Linked DNA regions of Homo sapiens: region 2 is linked to region 1. The links come from fine-mapping of genetic effects on gene expression. A gene starts in region 1. The other region holds a variant in brackets. All regions are shown on one strand. Distances are between the middles of the regions.

Region 1 (8,337 bases):
ACTGAGCATGTGAAAAGATGCTCAGCCTCACTAATAATAATAAAAAGGGCAAATTAAAACAAGAGACAGGTTTCTCCCAATCCAATTAGCCAAGACTAAAAATGAACAATAATGTCTGGTCAAGAATGTCATGTATATTAGGAAACAAGCTCACACCCACTTGGTGAGTCTAATTGGGTACAACCTTCCTGGAAAACCACCCAGAATATGTTTCAGAATTTTAAATGTATACACCTTTGGACTCCATGATTCCTATTCTGAAAATGTATCATAAGTACACAAAGATATATGTCCAAGAACATTGCAGTATAGTTTATAATAGCAACCAAAAGAGAAAAAGAAGCAACCTAAAATTCCATCAACAGGAGGCTAGTTAACAAAAGTACTGTCCAGTCATAAAATGAAACATCACACAGTCTTTAAAGAGGATAACGTAAGGGCAGGTGTGGTGGCACATGCCTGTAGTCCCACCTACTTGGGAGGCTGAGGCAGGAGGATTGCTTGAGTCCAGGAGTTTGAGACAAGCCTGAGCAACATAGGGAGACCCTGTCTCTACAAAAATGAAAAAAATAGCTAGGCGTGGTGGTGCATGCCTGTGGTCCCAGGATCACTTGAGCCTGGGAGGTTGAGGCTGCAGTGATTCCACCACTGCACTCCAGCCTCAGCCTGGTCAATAGAGCAAGACTCTGTCTCCAAAAGAAAAAAAAAGAATAATGTTGATTTCTATGTCTTTCCAGGAAAAGATATTATAAAGATGGAAATGTCATTTATAAAATAGTATACATAATACAAACCAATTCACGTATGTAAGTACAATTATGTGCATGGATTGGATCATAGATACATTTTACGTATACATGTATGTAAATATTTATGAAGCACAAAATCCTATAGGATGTACACTTAACTTCTCACAATTGCTGTTCTTGTGGGTTGGAGGTGGGAGGGGCAGGTGGATTTCACTTGCTACTTTTTTTGCATTTTTATACCAATCATGAATTAACAGAAAATATATTTCTACAGGGAGCAAGGATAAGGGGAATCCCAACAGAGTCACCTCACTCCAACTGGGTCTTTGAGGCACCTCCCAAGGCCAATATTGCATGGTTTTAAGATGAAGTCCACATAGACAGTGAATTCGGTGTCCCCCTCACATTATGGGATGTTCTGTTTGATGACAACATTGACTCTATTCATCCCTGCTCAGGCCTTTCAGGTCAGCATTTAGTGTATTATGTGGTAGTGACCAGTGTTATGTCTTCCTCCTGGACCAGCCTGTGGACATCTTAAGGGCTGAGAGAGCATCTTATTCATGCCCACACCCTCATATCCATCACAGGACTTCATGTAGAGGCAGTGAGCATTTCATTCATCAGGGAAATATTTCATGAACACCTACAACAAGCCAGCCCTGTGCCAGTGCTGGAGAGCTGTGGGTAAACAGAACAGATCCGGGCTTACATCCTGAAGGTTGCCGTCCTGCTGGAATTTGTTGAATAACTAAATGACTCACAAGCAAGGGACCAGTGAGATGAACAGACTCAAAGGATTGGGGGAGCTGACCTAGTGACCTTGTGAGCCAATACACAAGAACATTAGCCTGGAGCAAACAGACCAACCTTGTTCCAGGGAAGTAGTTTTCGCTTTTTTTTTTTTCTTTGGCAGTGGAATGTCTTCTCAATAAACAAAAGAGGTAACGGTGATATTATTATAAGCTGATTTTATAAGTTTAATTTAAAGCATTTACTGATCATACAATCAAGATAATTTTAGTTGACAAAAAACATTTGGGATACCTGAGTGGAGGTAGTATTTTTACTAGATGTTTAATACTTGAAAGATATAATAAAAATTAAATTCAAATAAAATGTTTGCAGAACCCTGGTTTAAAAACCACTGTTCTGGGCCAGGCGCATTGGCTCACGCTTGTAATCCCAGCACTTTGGGAGGCTAAGGCGGGTGGATCATGAGCTCAGGAGTTCGAGACCAGCCTGACCAACATGATGAAACCCCATCTCTACTGAAAATACAAAAATTAGCCAGGCGTGGTGGCGCACGCCTGTAATCCTAGCTACTCAAGAGGCTAAGGCAGGAGAATCACTTGAACCCGGGAGGCGGAGGTTGCAGTGAGCCGAGATCGTGCCATTGTACTCCAGCCTGGGCAACGGAGTGAGACTCCATCTCAAAAAAAAAAAAAAAACACCACTGTTCTGGAAGTAAAAATGTTGCTTTTGTTGTTTTGTTTTCAGTAATAAACAGAATGGTTCAAATTTTAAACTCTCTTAAGTATTTTTCATCTGTTCATTCAACCAGTAGCTATTAAGCACATTCAATGGGTCACGAGCTCTTATAGTGAATTCAATATTAATTGCCTCAAAGATCACAAGGAACCAGGAGATTAAGGGAGGGTGGTGGTGGAGTCAGGGGAACAGCCATAATAGGTAGGTAGATAGGTAGATAGATGGATGGACGGACGACGCATGGTTGGATAGATGGTGTGATCAGCTGAATAACAGCTCCCCAAGATGTCCACATCCTAATCCTCAGTATTTGTGAATATATGTTATCAGGCAAAGGGACTCTGCATATGTGATTAAGCTAAGGATCTTGAGTTGGGGGGACGATCCTGGATTAGCCAGTGGGCCCAATGTCATCACAAGGATCCTTATCAATGAAAGAGGGAGGCAGGAGAGTCAGAGAAGGAGACATGGGGATGACTGTGGAGGTCAGAGTCAGAGAGATGTGTGAAGATGTTACAGAGCTGCCTTTGAAGACGGAAGAGGACCATCAGCCAAGGAATGTGGGCAGCTGCAGAAGCTGGAAAAGGCAAGGAAACAGATTGCTAGAGCCCCCAGACAGAATGCACCCCTACAGACTCCTCGATTTGGGGATTTCCAGCATTCAGAACTGTCAGATAACACATTTGTGTCGTTTTAAGCTACTAAGTTTATGTGATTTGTTATAGCAGCAATAGAAAACTAATATAAATGAGAGAGAGAGACAGAGAGAGAGATGATAGATAAGCTTATGTGATTTGTTATAGCAGCAATAGGAAACATAGATAGATGAATAGATAGATGGATAGATAGATTAGATACAGAATAGATAGATAGATGGATAGATTAGATATAGAATAGATAGATAGATAGATAGATAGATAGATAGATAGATAGATAGATAGATAGATAGACAGATAAACAAACTTGTCTTTGGCTTCTTAAAATTGATTCTTATTAAAATCCTATCCTGAGTAATTTTTGCCTGTGATGGGGCAGAGCCCCACGCACATAGGAGCTCAGCGAACATGCTGTATGAATGAAATGGTCTCACTAAGCTCCCCCTCCCTTTCCTGAGCCTAGAAGTTGTTCCCTTAAGGGAATTCTAGGACTCAGTTGTCCTACGATCAGGATCACCTGCTCCCTGAATCTGCTTTCTGAGTACAGACCACGTCTAGTCTTCAGGTCCTTGGGTGGCAAATGAATGGGGCAATGGGGGTCTCCTGCTGCAGGTGTGTTCCAAGCTAGAACACTTTTGGAGGGCAGGGTCTATTCAGATTCTAACATTCCTTTTAAACTTGCAACTACAAGTCTAGGATGTGAATTTTACCCATGCAAGTCCCCAGAGATGTTCATTGCTGTATTGCTTAGAATCGTTAAAAATTGGAACCAACCTAAATGTCCATTAGCCAGGAACTGATTCAAATTAACCAAAGATATCCATAAAGTTGGATCCTGGCAGGCCACTAAAGTGAATGAATTGGATCTTTATGTTACTGACATGTAAATATGTCCATAACATTAATTGAGGGGTTGCAGGGGAAAACCTTACAAGCACATGTAACACAAGAGCCTATTTGTGTAAAACTATACAAGTTTAGGTTTACATATGTCAAAAAGTTCTCCCAAGGTATATGTCAAAACTTTAACAGTAGTAAGTTTTCAAGAATGAACATATGTATTCCTGTACAGTATTCCTGCACTGTTTGACTTTCTATAATAATCAAATTGTAATATGATGTAATCAGAGTGGGGGAAATGACTATTTGAAAATTCTGGTCTGGCTGTCAGTGGCAGGCTGAGCAGGAATAAGGGGTGACCAGTTCTCAGCCGAGGTGACCACACGGCCACACTGACCCAGAAACTTGACCCAGAGACTCCTGAATCTTGAGCCCCTGGGCCCCCTAAGACTCTACACCCAGAGGAAGAGGAAATGGCACATACTGGCGTCACTCACGGTCTCTAAGAATCTGAAAATCAGTGACCCCTGCAGGAGGCCAGTAGCCTGAACCCAGGGCAATGCTGTGTCCCAGGAAGGCTCTGGGTTTGGAGTCCCATGGACTAGGGCTAAAAGCCATCTCCACCACTTGACAGCCAGGTGACCGGGCTCTCCAAGCCTCTGTTTCCTCATCTGTACGATGGAGGAAGATTCTTGCCTCACAGGGATGTTGTGAAGACAGACCGCACATGCCCCTGGTGCATAGTAGGGCCAACTTCCCTCCCGCTCCCGTGACCCCTGTACCTGCAGCCCAGGTCGGCCCAGCGCTGGGCGCAGCGCCTGGCAATGCGGGCCCGCGGGATCCGAGGACACGGTGAGGCTAGGGGCCCTGGGGCCAGCCTCTCCATCTGGGCGGCGGGGAGGAGGGCAGGCTCGGCCATGGGCTGGCACCTCGAGGATCCCGGTCGGTCGTGGTGCTGCCGCCGTGGGGCTGACTCGATCGGCAATGTGAGAGGGAGGAGTGAGGTAGGGCCCCCGTGGCGCACCCAGTTCCCAGACACCCTCATGCAGGACTAATGTTCAGCCTCCTCCTGGGGCGGGGCTGGCTTGGCCGGGGCCACCTACAGGCAGGCACTCGCCGCACACACACACACCACTGAGTCCCACCCGCCTGCACTGGAACTGCGAGGTGGAAACGGCGCCTTTCAAAAACTGTCATGAAATATGATTTGCATGGCCACTATTATTACCTACAGCCATCCCGATTTCAGAGTAAAACCACATGAATAAAGCACCTGGCTACTATGGGTGGAAGAACGTGCTCACGACCCAGGGGTTTTTATCTGGCTGGGCTATTCCCTCTGAGGCTTCTCTGAGCCTCGGTTTCCTCCTCTGTGAAATGGGGATGGTGACATTTGCCAGGAGACAGGAAAAAAGCAAGCAGGAAGATGTCAGGGTGTAAAGAGAGCAGGACCTGGGCACGGGGGCGGGAGGATAGGAAGGGAGCAGGAAATGGGAGTGGCAAAGTGAGGGGGCGTCCGGAGAGCCTCCCGGGATTGGTCTTTTGGCTGGGATGTAAAGGAGGAGGAACTAGCTGGGGAAAGGCTGGGTAAGGGGAAAACCCAGGGAATTTAACCCCCTCTTCTGTAAAATGAGAACTCATTCATTCACTTAGCAAATCTTTATGGAGCTCTGTAGGGGCCCTGGGGGAAGGCGACCAGAGTGTCTGAAAGCAAAGAGCAGGAGAGTGTGGACTCAGCTGAGAGGAGAGCAGAGGCTGAGTGTCAGGGTGGGGAGTGGGAAGGGGTTTCCAGGTGCCAACAAGGACACAAGCCAAGGTGTTGCAGTAGGGCATTTGGGGAACGTATGAGAAGCGCTCCTGCCAGCTTCCCTGGCGGTGTCCTATTCCCTGCATCCATTTTGGACCATGAGCCCCTTCTCTTGCCCTCTGGCCAGGACTGAATGCCATAGACTTCCCCAGATTGCCCGGGCCCGCCCTGCCCTCCTCTAAGCCTCCGGGTGTCAGTGAATCTTTCCAGGAAGCATATTCACCTGTACTCCAAGAAGAGAGGCCCCAGAGTCCTCATCAAGGAGGGCCCCCAAGTCTATGGGTCCCCACAGTCTGAAGCTCTGTTCTGGCCTTAGGGAGGCAAGAAATGGGCCCCAAGAAACTGAAAACAGGGCCCCACGGGAGCCATAGAGCCCAGGAGCATGCATGGTTCTGGCATTAAAGACGGGAAAGGCCTCGCAACACAAAGGGTCCTGAAAAACCCCAAGTTTCAGGTGGCTGTCACTGGCTGGAACCTGCAGACCAGGGCTGTGCAGAAGACCACCCATCCACTTCTCCTGAGCCTCCTCCTGAGGAGGAGACAAGGGAACCATGCCACTGTGAGGCCAAGGAGCTGGGGTCCAATATGTAGGTGAATTGTCAGCCGAAGTGGGTGCAGAACTACTTTGGGAGCCATAGGGAGTTTTGGGTGGGAAACATGGTAGGTGCTTAATAAAGGTTGGGTGGATGGATGGATAGATGGATGCATAGATAGATGGAAGAAAGAATGAAAGATTGGTTGGGAAAATGGGGGATGAGAGAAGGGATGAATGGGAAGGCAATTGAATAAGAGGTTGATGGTTGGTTTGATGGGTGGATGGATGGATGGATGGATGGATGGATGGATGGGTAGGTGGATGGGTAGGTGGAAGAGTGAATGGCTGTGGGCATGAATATGTGAGAGCATGAGTGAATGAATGAATCAGTGAGCCATTAGGTGAATGGGGGGAAGAGTAAATGAGTGAATGAATGAATAAATGCTTGAGTGAGTAAACAAGTTAGTACCTGGGTAAATGAACTTCTAGTCCAGACTGAAAACATAGTTCATTGTTACCTTCCTTAGGTGCAAGGAACCTTTCAGAAGAAAGCAGGAAGGAAGAGAGAGTGGCCTGAATCTTGGATGACCACACTTTCAAGCCTCTGTAAGGAAGTGCCCTCTTCGCTTCCGGGAGAGCCGCGCGTATACTCAGAATGAAGCCTGGAGAAGTGAGTGTACCCACGCTCAGGGCAACATTCCTCACCCCCGGCTGAGCCCTGTCCCAGCCCCCCACCTGCAGTATCGGCCAGGCCGGTTAGGTCACAGTGGAGTGGCTCAGACCTGTTGGCCCTGCACCCTGGCAGCTCGCCAGCACCTCCCCAGGCAGCCTGCCATCAGCTAGGCCTCTCACTATCGCAGAGACTCATTCCAGGTCCCTCAGACCCAGAAAGCCCCCCAGGGCCTGTGTGCTGTGTGCTCAGCATTTCCTCCCTGGCTTTCTGCCCCTCCAAGCAGCCCCCACTCCACACTACAGCACAGTCCTATGTAGTGTGATGAGGTGGAGCCTCATAGGCTTCAGGCTGATCCTCAGCTCTGCCACTTAGGCTGTGTGACTTCAGGCAAATGCCTTAACCTCTCTCAGTCACAGCTTCCACATCATTTAAATGAAAACCTTGCCTGGCTTGAGGGGTGGTTGTGAGGATTTGGTGGGATAATACACATCAAGCACTTAAATGGGGCCTGGCACACAATGTACATAGAGCATCTAATTTCCAGGTGCTCAGCTTCTTCCTTTTTCTTTTCTGAGACTGGCTCTCACTGTATCACCCAGGCTGGTGTGCAGTGGTGTGATCACAGCTCACTGCAGCCTTGACCTCCTAGGCTCAAGCGATCCTCCAGCCTCAGTCTCTGGATGGAGCTAGGATTTACTAGGCGTGTGCCACCACACTCAGCCATTTTTATTTATTGTTTTGTAGAGACAGGGGTCTCACTATGTTGCCCAGGCTGGTCTCAAACTCCTGGCTTCAAGTGATGCTTCCACCTCCGCTTCCTAAAGTGCTGGGATTACAGGCATGAGCTACCATGCCCAGCCAATTTTTTCTTTCAAAAGTAATTTATGGAATGAAGTGCCAGCCAAGCACTGTGATCACAGCTTTACATGCATTACCACATTCAATCCTCATGATAAACTCTCAAGAGAGTGTTATGGGTTCAAGTGTCCTACCAAAAACATATGAAAAACATGTGAATGCCTAAGCCCCAGTAGCTCTGAATGTGACTGTCAGGCCTCTGAGCCCAAGCTTAGCCATCATATCCCCTGTGACCTGCACGTACACATCCAGATGGCTGGTTCCTGCCTTAACTGATGACATTCCACCACAAAAGAAGTGAAAATGGCCTGTTCCTGCCTTAACTGATGATATTATCTTGTGAAATTCCTTCTCCGGGCTCATCCTGGCTCAAAAGCTCCCCTACTGAGCACCTTGTGACTCCCACTCCTGCCCGCCAGAGAACAACCCCCCTTTGACTGTAATTTTCCTTTACCTACCCAAATCTTATAAAACGGCCCCACCCCTATCTCCCTTTGCTGACTCTCTTTTCGGATTCAGCCTGCCTGCATCCAGGTGAAATAAACAGCCTTGTTGCTCACACAAAGCCTGTTTGGTGGTCTCTTCACATGGATGCACATGAAATTTGGTGCCATGACTAGGATCAGGGGACCTCCCTTGGGAGATCAATCCCCTTTCCTCCTGCTCTTTGCTCCGTGAAAAAGATCCACCTATGACCTCGGGTCCTCAGACCCACCAGCCCAAGGAAC
Region 2 (8,337 bases), 27 kb before region 1:
TGAAATTAAATCAAATATGTGAAGTACTTGGCATAATGCTTAGTGTGTGGTAAAAGATCAATATGTGATGTCTTTAGCATTATTATTATTATTCAGAGGAGAGTCTTGCTCTGTCACCCAGGTTGCAGTGCAGGGGCACAATCACAGCTCACTGTAACCTTGAACTCGGCTCAAGTGATCCTCCTGCCCCAGCCTCCTGAGTAGCTAAGATTACGGGCACACACCACCACATCCAACTATTTTTTTTTTTTTTGAGACGGAGTCTCACTCTGCCACACAGGCTGGAGTGCAGTGGCGTGATCTCTGCTCACTACAATCTCTGTCTCCCAGGTTCAAGCAATTCTCCTGCCTCAGCCTCCCAAGTAGCTGGGATTATAGTTGTGTACCACCACACCCAGCTAACTTTTGTATTTTTAGTAGGGATGGGGTTTCACCATGTTGGCCCAGCTGGTCGCAAACTCCTGACCTCAAGTGATCTGCCTGCCTCGGCCTCCCAAAGTGCTGGGATTACAGGCATGAGCCACCATGCCTGGCCCACACCCAATTATTTAAAAAAAATTTTTGTAGAGATGGGGTCTTGCTATGTTGCCCAGGCTGGTCTCGAATTTCTGGCCTCAAGTGATCCTCCCACCTTGGCCTTCCAAAGTGCTGGCATTACAGGTGTGCGCCACCATGCCTGGCCCTTTAGCGTGATTAATTATTATCATCATTCATAATTTAATGGAGAAACACTGTCAAAGAAAAAGACAAGATAATGTTGAATATTAATTATCTCTGATGTTTTAGAAATAGAAACTCATTATTAAAAAATTTTAGGCCAGGCGCGGTGGCTCACGCCTGTAATCCCAGCACTTTGGGAGGCCGAGGCTGGCGGATCACGAAGTCAGGAGATTGAGACCATCCTGGCTAACACGGTGAAACCCCATCTCTACTAAATATACAAAAAATTAGCCAGGCATGGTGGCGGGCGCCTGTAGTCCCAGCTACTCGGGGGCTGAGGCAGGAGAATGGCATGAACCCAGGGGGCGGAGCTTGCAGTGAACCAAGATTGCACCACTGCACTCCAGCCTGGGCAATAGAGCGAGACTCCGTCTCAAAAAAAAAAAAATTTAGGCCGGGTGCAGTGGCTCATACCTGTAATCCTAACACTTTGGGAGGCTGAGGCGGGCAGATCACCTGAGGTCAGGAGTTCGAGACCAGCCTGGCCAACATGGAGAAACCCTGTCTCTACTAAAAATACAAAAATTAGCTGGGTGTGGTAGCACATGCCTGTAGTCCCAGCTACTTGGGAGGCAGAGGCACAACAATCACTTGAACGTCGGGGGTGGAGGTTGTAGTGAGCCGAGGTTTTGCCACTGCACTCCAGCCTGGGCAACAGAGTGAGACTGTTTCAAAAAAGAAAAAATTAAATAAATAAATAAATAAATATAAATGTTATTTGATGTACTATGATTAATGGAAAATATTATCACTAAGAGAAACTAGGTGCAGAGTACGTGGGAGTTCTGTTTTTGCAACTTGCTGTGGACCTAAGAAAATTCCATTTGAATGAGTGAAAGTACTCTCACATTGGAATAGAGGCTACTGCAGGGGGTGGGGTTGGTTTCCTAAGCAGTAGAGAGTGGTGGTCAGTTGGGAAGGCTCCAGGGTCAGGCTGCCAGGTGTTCCTGTCCTGGCCTTTGTGGGAGCCAATTCTGTCACTTCTCCTCTCTGAGCACCATGATATGGTTTGGCTATGTCCCCCGCCAAATCTCATCTTGAATTTCCATGTGTTGTGGGAGGGGCCCTGTGGGAGGTAATTGAATCACGGGGGCAGGTCTTTCCCAGGCTGTTCTTGTGATAGTGAATAAGTCTCACGAGATCTGATGGTTTTAAAAAGGGGAGATTCCCTGCACAAGCTCTCTTCTCTTGTCTGCTGCCACATGAGACGTGCCTTTCACCTTCCACCATGATTGTGAGGCCTCCCCAGCCATGTGGAACTGTAAGTCCATTAAACCTCTTTCATGCCTTTATCAGCAGTGTAAAAACAGACTAACATATGCCACTTCTCTTTTTTTTTTTTTTTTTTTTTAGGTCTTGCTCTGTGGCCCAGGCTGGAGAGCAGTGGTGCAATCATAGCTCACTGCAGCTTCAACCTCCAGGTACAAGTGATCCTCCTGCCTCAGCCTCCCAAGTGGCTAAGACTACAGGCCTGCACCATCACACCTGGCTATTTCAAAAATTTTTTGTAGAGATGGGGTATTGTTATGTTGCCCAGGCTGGTTTCAAACTCCTAGACTCAAGCAATCCTCTCGCCTTGGCCTCCCAAATTGCTGGGATTACAGGCGTGAGCCACTGTGCCCGATCCTACTTCTCTTTCTTTCTATCATATAGTCAGGGAGCAATGAGGGCACTGGAAGCCTTGGGAACAATGCCCTGGGCCAGGGCAGCCCTCAGTAAAATGTTACCTAAGATTGCATCGACTGCATCATCACGTGGTCAAAGAAGAAACACTTCCTTTAGTAATAGAGGGACTGTGAAAGACTATATTTACTCCATGAGAGAAGTCAGAATAGTGGTTATTCTGCAGGGAAAGGAATTACCTGGGAAGGGCATGCGGGCACTGAGGGGGTGGTGGGGTAGGAAGTTTCTTTCTTTCTTTCTTTTTCCATATTACAAGCCATCAAGCAAGGGAGGAAGTTTCTGTACTCATTTGTTGGTATTTACACGGGCATACACACCAAGCTGTACCTGGTAAATATCTGTGCACTTAACAGCGAGTTATAGTTCAATCTTTAAAAACCTAACTATCAATGATTACATCCTATTTGGAAGGAACTATGCTGGGATAACTGAATATTTTGGGAAAAAAGAACGGCCAGGTGCAGTGGCTCACACCTGTAATCCCAGCACTTTGGGAGGCTGAGGCTGGAGGATTGCTTGAGCCCAGGAGTTTGAGACCAGCCTGGGCAATGTAGGAAGAACCTAACTCTAAAAAAAATTTTAAAAATTAGCTGGGCATGGTGGCATGCAACTGTAGTCCTAGCTACTTGAGAGACTGAGGTGTAAGGATAGCTTGAGCCTGGGAGGTTGAGGCTGCAGTGAGCTGGGATGGTACCACTGCACTCCCGCCTGGGTGACAGAGTGAGACCTTGTCTCAAAGAAAAAAAAAAGAAGGAAAGAAGGAAAGAAAGGAAGAAGAAAAGGAAGGAAGGAAAGAAGGAAGGAAGGAAGGGAGGGAGGGAGGGAAGGAGGGAGGAGAAAGAAAGGAAAGAAAGAGAAAGAAAAGAAAAACAAAGAAAGAAAGAAAGAAAAAGAAAGAAAGAAAGAAAGAAAAAAGAAGGAGGAGGAGGAGGGAAGGGAGGGAGGGAGAGAGGGAGGAAAGAACAGAACTAAAATATTGGGTCTCTCTCTGTCACTCCAGGCACTAAAATTAATTTTAAAAGTAACTAGAAAAACATGTTGATGGACAGTTATGAGCTTGCTGGAGGAGGGAGGGCTTTCTAAGGATAAAAACAAAGAGCATGGAGACAATACTGACAGGACTGTTAGACTGTAAGCATCCTGCTCCCCAGTCTTGATACCCAGCGGTCACTCAGTAAATATTTGTGGTACGAATTAAATGAATGAATGAATTAACAACTTTTGTGCTGGATGCCTGTCAGTGTGGAAGGTGTGAAGAGATGGGTGCTGGTGCCTGAGCACAGGGGGACCTAGCCAACCAGCCCTGTGGACAGCATCCTCACCGGCAGGGAACACTTGCCCCAGGCAGAGGTGCCTCCCCGGGATGGCCTGCTCCTCTGCAGGAGCACCGCAGCTTGTTCTGAGTAGGCAGAGTCCATGTTGAAGGCTTCTTCCCTCCCAGCCTGCTCCTGCAGCCCCCCAGGCTCTGCTGCTGCGGGGCGGGGGAAACAAAGCAGAGAAAGGCAGTGAGAACTGGCTGCCAGGAAGCAAGTGCTTGGGTTCGGGACTTAGGCCCTTAGTCCTAAGAAGTGAGCTCCCAAGCTCAAGTTCAAAGCCCCAGGATCAAATCATTAGGTTTAGGGCTCAGGCTCATTGCCCAGGAAGTGATTTCCTAGCTATGGCCCATTGCCCCCAGGAAATGATTTCCTAGCTAAGACCCTCACTGCCCCAGGAAGTGATTTCCCAGCTAAGGCCAATTGCCCAGGAAGAGAATTTTCCCATCTTGAGCCCCATGGGCCTGATGGCAACAGCTCACTTAAGGGCCCAACCTGTCCCCTCAGGGCTCCTCCCTACTGCCCTTGAGCAGGGAAGGCAGGGAGTCAGCAGGAAGCAGGAAATGCTGGGAGGTGTGCACATTCTCTTACTTCACAGAGCAGCCCTTTATGCAGCCTGGAGGATTCTCAGGGCCCTGGAGAATGAAGACCACTTACCTGGAGGAAACTTAGAGGCCCCGGAACTGAGCTGGGCCCCCTTCATACCGGAGTC[G/C]CCATTCTCTGACGACATTTTCTATGCAAATTACAGACAGTGCCCAATTACTCATGTGGGAAGCTGACAATGCTCACACAACCCTGGGAGACAGAAGCCACCCACAACCCCTTTTCACAGATGGAGCCACTGAAGCCCAGAGAGGCTGAGTTACTTGCCCAAAGTCCCACAGCTGCTAAGTCGGGGAATGGGCACTGGGGCCCAAGTCTGGCTGGCTCCAAAGCCTGTGGTTTTAATCACTGCTATGCCACTTCAGAGGTGCTCCAAGAAAGATGATGCCCACAACCTATCAGGCTTCAAGTGTCAGCAGGATACACAGTGACAATAAAAAAGTATTTTGTGCCAGCCGGGCGTGGTGGCTCACGCCTGTAATCCCAGCACTTTGGGAGGCCGAGGCTGGTGGATCACCAGGTCAGGAGATAGAGACCATCCTGGCTAACACAGTGAAACCCCGTCTCTACTAAAAATACAAAAAATTAGCCGGGCATGGTGGCGGGCGCCTGTAGTCCCAGCTACTCGGCAGGCTGAGGCAGGAGAACGGCGTGAACCCGGGAGGCGGAGCTTGCAGTGAGTCGAGATGTCGCCACTGCACTCTAGCCTGGGCGACAGAGCGAGGCTCAGTCTCAAAAAAAAAAAAAGGATTTTGTACTGATAATGAGGTAGGAGGTGGGACTTTGGCTGAAACAAGGAAGAGGCAAAAACACCTCTCCATAAGACATGCCCACAGTGCCATGACAGTTTACCATTGCCATGGCAACACCTGGAAATTACTGCCCCTTTTCTAGACATTTCTGAATAACTCACCCCTTAATTTGCATGTAATTAAAAGGCAGAACTGCTCCTGAGCTGTTGCTCTGGACACACAGCCTATAGGGTGGTCCTGCCCCTGGGCTGCTGTCCTGGACACGGCCTATCGGGTGGCCCCGCTCTGCAGCAGCAGTCACGCCACTGTATTACTGCTGCCTCCATAGTGTTGTTTTCTTCTACCACCAGCTCACTCTTGAATTCTTTCCTGAGTGAAACCAAAAGCTTCCAGAGCTAATCCCCAATTTAGGGGCTTGCCTGCCCTGCATCAATAACAATTATATAGAAAGAACCTAGGCTTTCAGGCTCACCCAAGGACACACAGTGGCAACAGGCATATATGCAGTGGCATGCATGGGAGATGAAGACCTACATGCAACATAGGGACATAGTGGAAGGCAGGGAGACATACGTGTGCAAGCCACTGCACTCTGAATACACACACACCAACACACACACAACACACACACCAACACACCCCCACACACACCAACACACCCCACACACACCCCAACACACACACACCAACACACACACACCAACGCACACCCCAACACACACAACACACACACTCAACACACATACCCCAACACACACCAACACACACACACATACCCCAACACACATACCAACACACAGACACCAACATGCACACACCAACATACACACACCCCAAAACACACACACCAACACACACACCCCCAACACAGACAACACACACACCCCCAACACACATACCCCAACACACACACACCCCAACACACACACCAACACACAGACACCAACACACATACCAACACCCACACACCAACACACACATACACACACCAACACAGCCCTTCAGCAGGATCACTGCATCTCTCAGGCTGTGGCGGCAGCACAGAGATCCCAGTCAGACGGGGCCTGCAATGACCCATATGCCACTTACCCCTGAATTGAAGACCCCAAAGACATCCCTGACATCTCTGACAGGTGTCTTGTGTTGTCTTCGCACTGAGCGAGCATAGATGTCCAGCCGGCGGCACACAGCGGCCACCTGGGTCTGTGTCAGGGTGGACAGGAGCTCCTGGTGATCACCATCCAAGCCCAGGCCACCAAGGAGGCCCGACAGGCCTGTGTCCTGCAGCCACTGGGATTCAGCTTCCCCTTCTGCCAACAGAAGTAGAACCCAGATGAACACACACAGCTCTGCACTCAGCCACTCGTGCTAACCAAAGTTCTGCATAGAAGCACACACTCACCTGGACACAGGAGTTTCTGCATATCTGATCGTGAGACCTATTAACACCAACCAGACTCTCCGGGGGAGAAGATCTAATGAGCCTTCTGAGAACTGGGGGCGGGGTGGGGGGTACTGATAGCATTAGCCAGTGTATGGATGTCAACCCATAACATAGCAATCCCTGGAAAACAGAGGTGGGTGAAGGGCCCTGCATGTTCAGATTTTGGACCCACTTCTCTCCAAAGTAATGAACCCACTTATCCAAAATCTGGCAGAGACCACTACAGGGTCACATGGTGTCCCCTTGGGAAGTTGGTGCTGGGTGTTGATGTCCCTTTGGGAAGTCCTCCATATTCAAGACCTTATTTGTGTTGGAATTGTCCCCTCTACTGTGCTTCCTAAGGAAACTCTCATAGTCCCATAGCAAAACCATTAACTGGAATGGGAGGGTGTGTTGAGATTTCAGGATCTCGGGTCTTACCTCCAGGGATTCTGTTCCAGGAGTTCAGGCCTCGGGCCTGAGAATCTGCACTTCGAATGTCTTCCTCAGATTATTCTAATGCAATAGGGTCTTCAGACCACACTTGAGAAACACTGGCCTTATCATGGGGGAAATGGACAAGAGCTCTTACTGGAAATTGAACACATGTGTGAGAGGATTGGTGGGGTGTACAGTTGTACCCAGTGTTGACCCAGTTAGTCAACAAGGTAATAAGTGTTTTAAAAACTCAAACAAAACTGCTTTTATGGCAGCCTGGGTTTTGCAAATAATCCAAGTCTTCCCCCAACACTTTCCCTGCACTTGGGAACCAGAACAGATGCCTCCAGGGCAGTTGCAATGTTGTGGGTCCATTCCTGACTTGTGCTGGCTGGTGGAGGTACTGATTCTATCATGATGCCAGACATTTTTTTGTTTGTACAGGATCCTTTCAATGAGCCACTGTTTCTTGAAATGTAGGCATTCACCAACCACCTTTATAATTTTTATCTGTATCTAATTGTCCCTGTAAAATTCCTTACCAAATATATCCCCTTAATCATGGGCTACATTTTTTACTAAAACACATCTATTTTAAAAGGAAACAAGATCCCCACCATAAATGGAGCATCCAACATCACCTGCCATGAGTAGACATTGATGGGAAAAATAAATTATTAACAATCCCTCTGGTTCAAGTTGGTGTCCGAATAAAAAGAAAAGATGACCAGGCATGGTGGCTCATGCCTGTAATCCCAGCACTTTGGGAGGCCAAGGTGGGCAGATCACCTGAGATCAGGATTTCAAGACCAGCCCGGCCAACATGGCGAAACCCCATCTCTACTAAAAATACGAAAATTAGACGGGTGTGGTGGTGAATGCCAGTAGTCCCAACTACTTGGGAGGCTGAGGCAGGAGAATCGCTTGAACCCAGGAGATGGAGGTTGCAGTGGGCTGAGATTGTGCCACTGCACCCCAGTCTGGGTGACAGAGTGAAACTCCGTTTCAAAAATTAAATAAATAAATAAAAAGAAAAGAAAGGAAAAAAAAAAACCAGTCTTGGCTCCATGCCACTCAGGATCCCTCAGCCCTGTGAGTCTAAAAAAGCTCCTGTGTTTATTTGGTTGCTCAAAGTGGCTTCTCTCTGACCCACTCTGACTCCACTCCCTGTGTATTGTGGGAAATTAGATTGCTGGCCACATCATGATTCCAGAGAGGCCACATGGAGGACCTCCTATGCAGGGCATCTCCTGAAACCACTTCTAGTGTAACCAGGGATGTTTTTACATTTACACTTGGAGGCACTGCATGAGACTATTAGGCCCTTAGGAGGTCTGCATCACCACGTGGTCTGTTTTGCCAACCAGGGGCAAGCCCAGCTGAATTACATGCCAAACCAGGAAGG

Alleles and levels. Alleles are on the strand shown, and positions count from the first base shown. SD is a standard deviation of normalised expression in the study named.
For the expression in unexposed skin of the gene that starts at base 4,789 in region 1, allele G in region 2 goes with a higher level than allele C (moderate effect, 0.73 SD a copy in GTEx).

Evidence for each region.
Region 2: its variant is fine-mapped to the expression of ARHGAP40 in unexposed skin (GTEx, PIP above 0.99). The same link has a PIP of 0.9 or more in breast, esophagus mucosa, lung, prostate, stomach and sun-exposed skin.

What each region holds. Positions count from the first base shown.
Region 1 is chr20:38,598,261-38,606,597 of GRCh38, reverse strand. It overlaps ARHGAP40 (Rho GTPase activating protein 40), which reads right to left and starts at 4,789. Exons shown (of 15, transcript NM_001164431.3): 1 at 4,519-4,789. The coding sequence starts at 4,655. RefSeq lists an enhancer at 5,667-6,208.
Region 2 is chr20:38,625,039-38,633,375 of GRCh38, reverse strand. It overlaps ARHGAP40 (Rho GTPase activating protein 40), which reads right to left. Exons shown (of 15, transcript NM_001164431.3): 3 at 6,161-6,381; 4 at 4,374-4,449; 5 at 3,726-3,874. Among named protein-coding and RNA genes, the nearest start is that of ARHGAP40, 27 kb to the right of the region's middle. The variant G/C (reference allele first, on the strand shown) is at 4,429.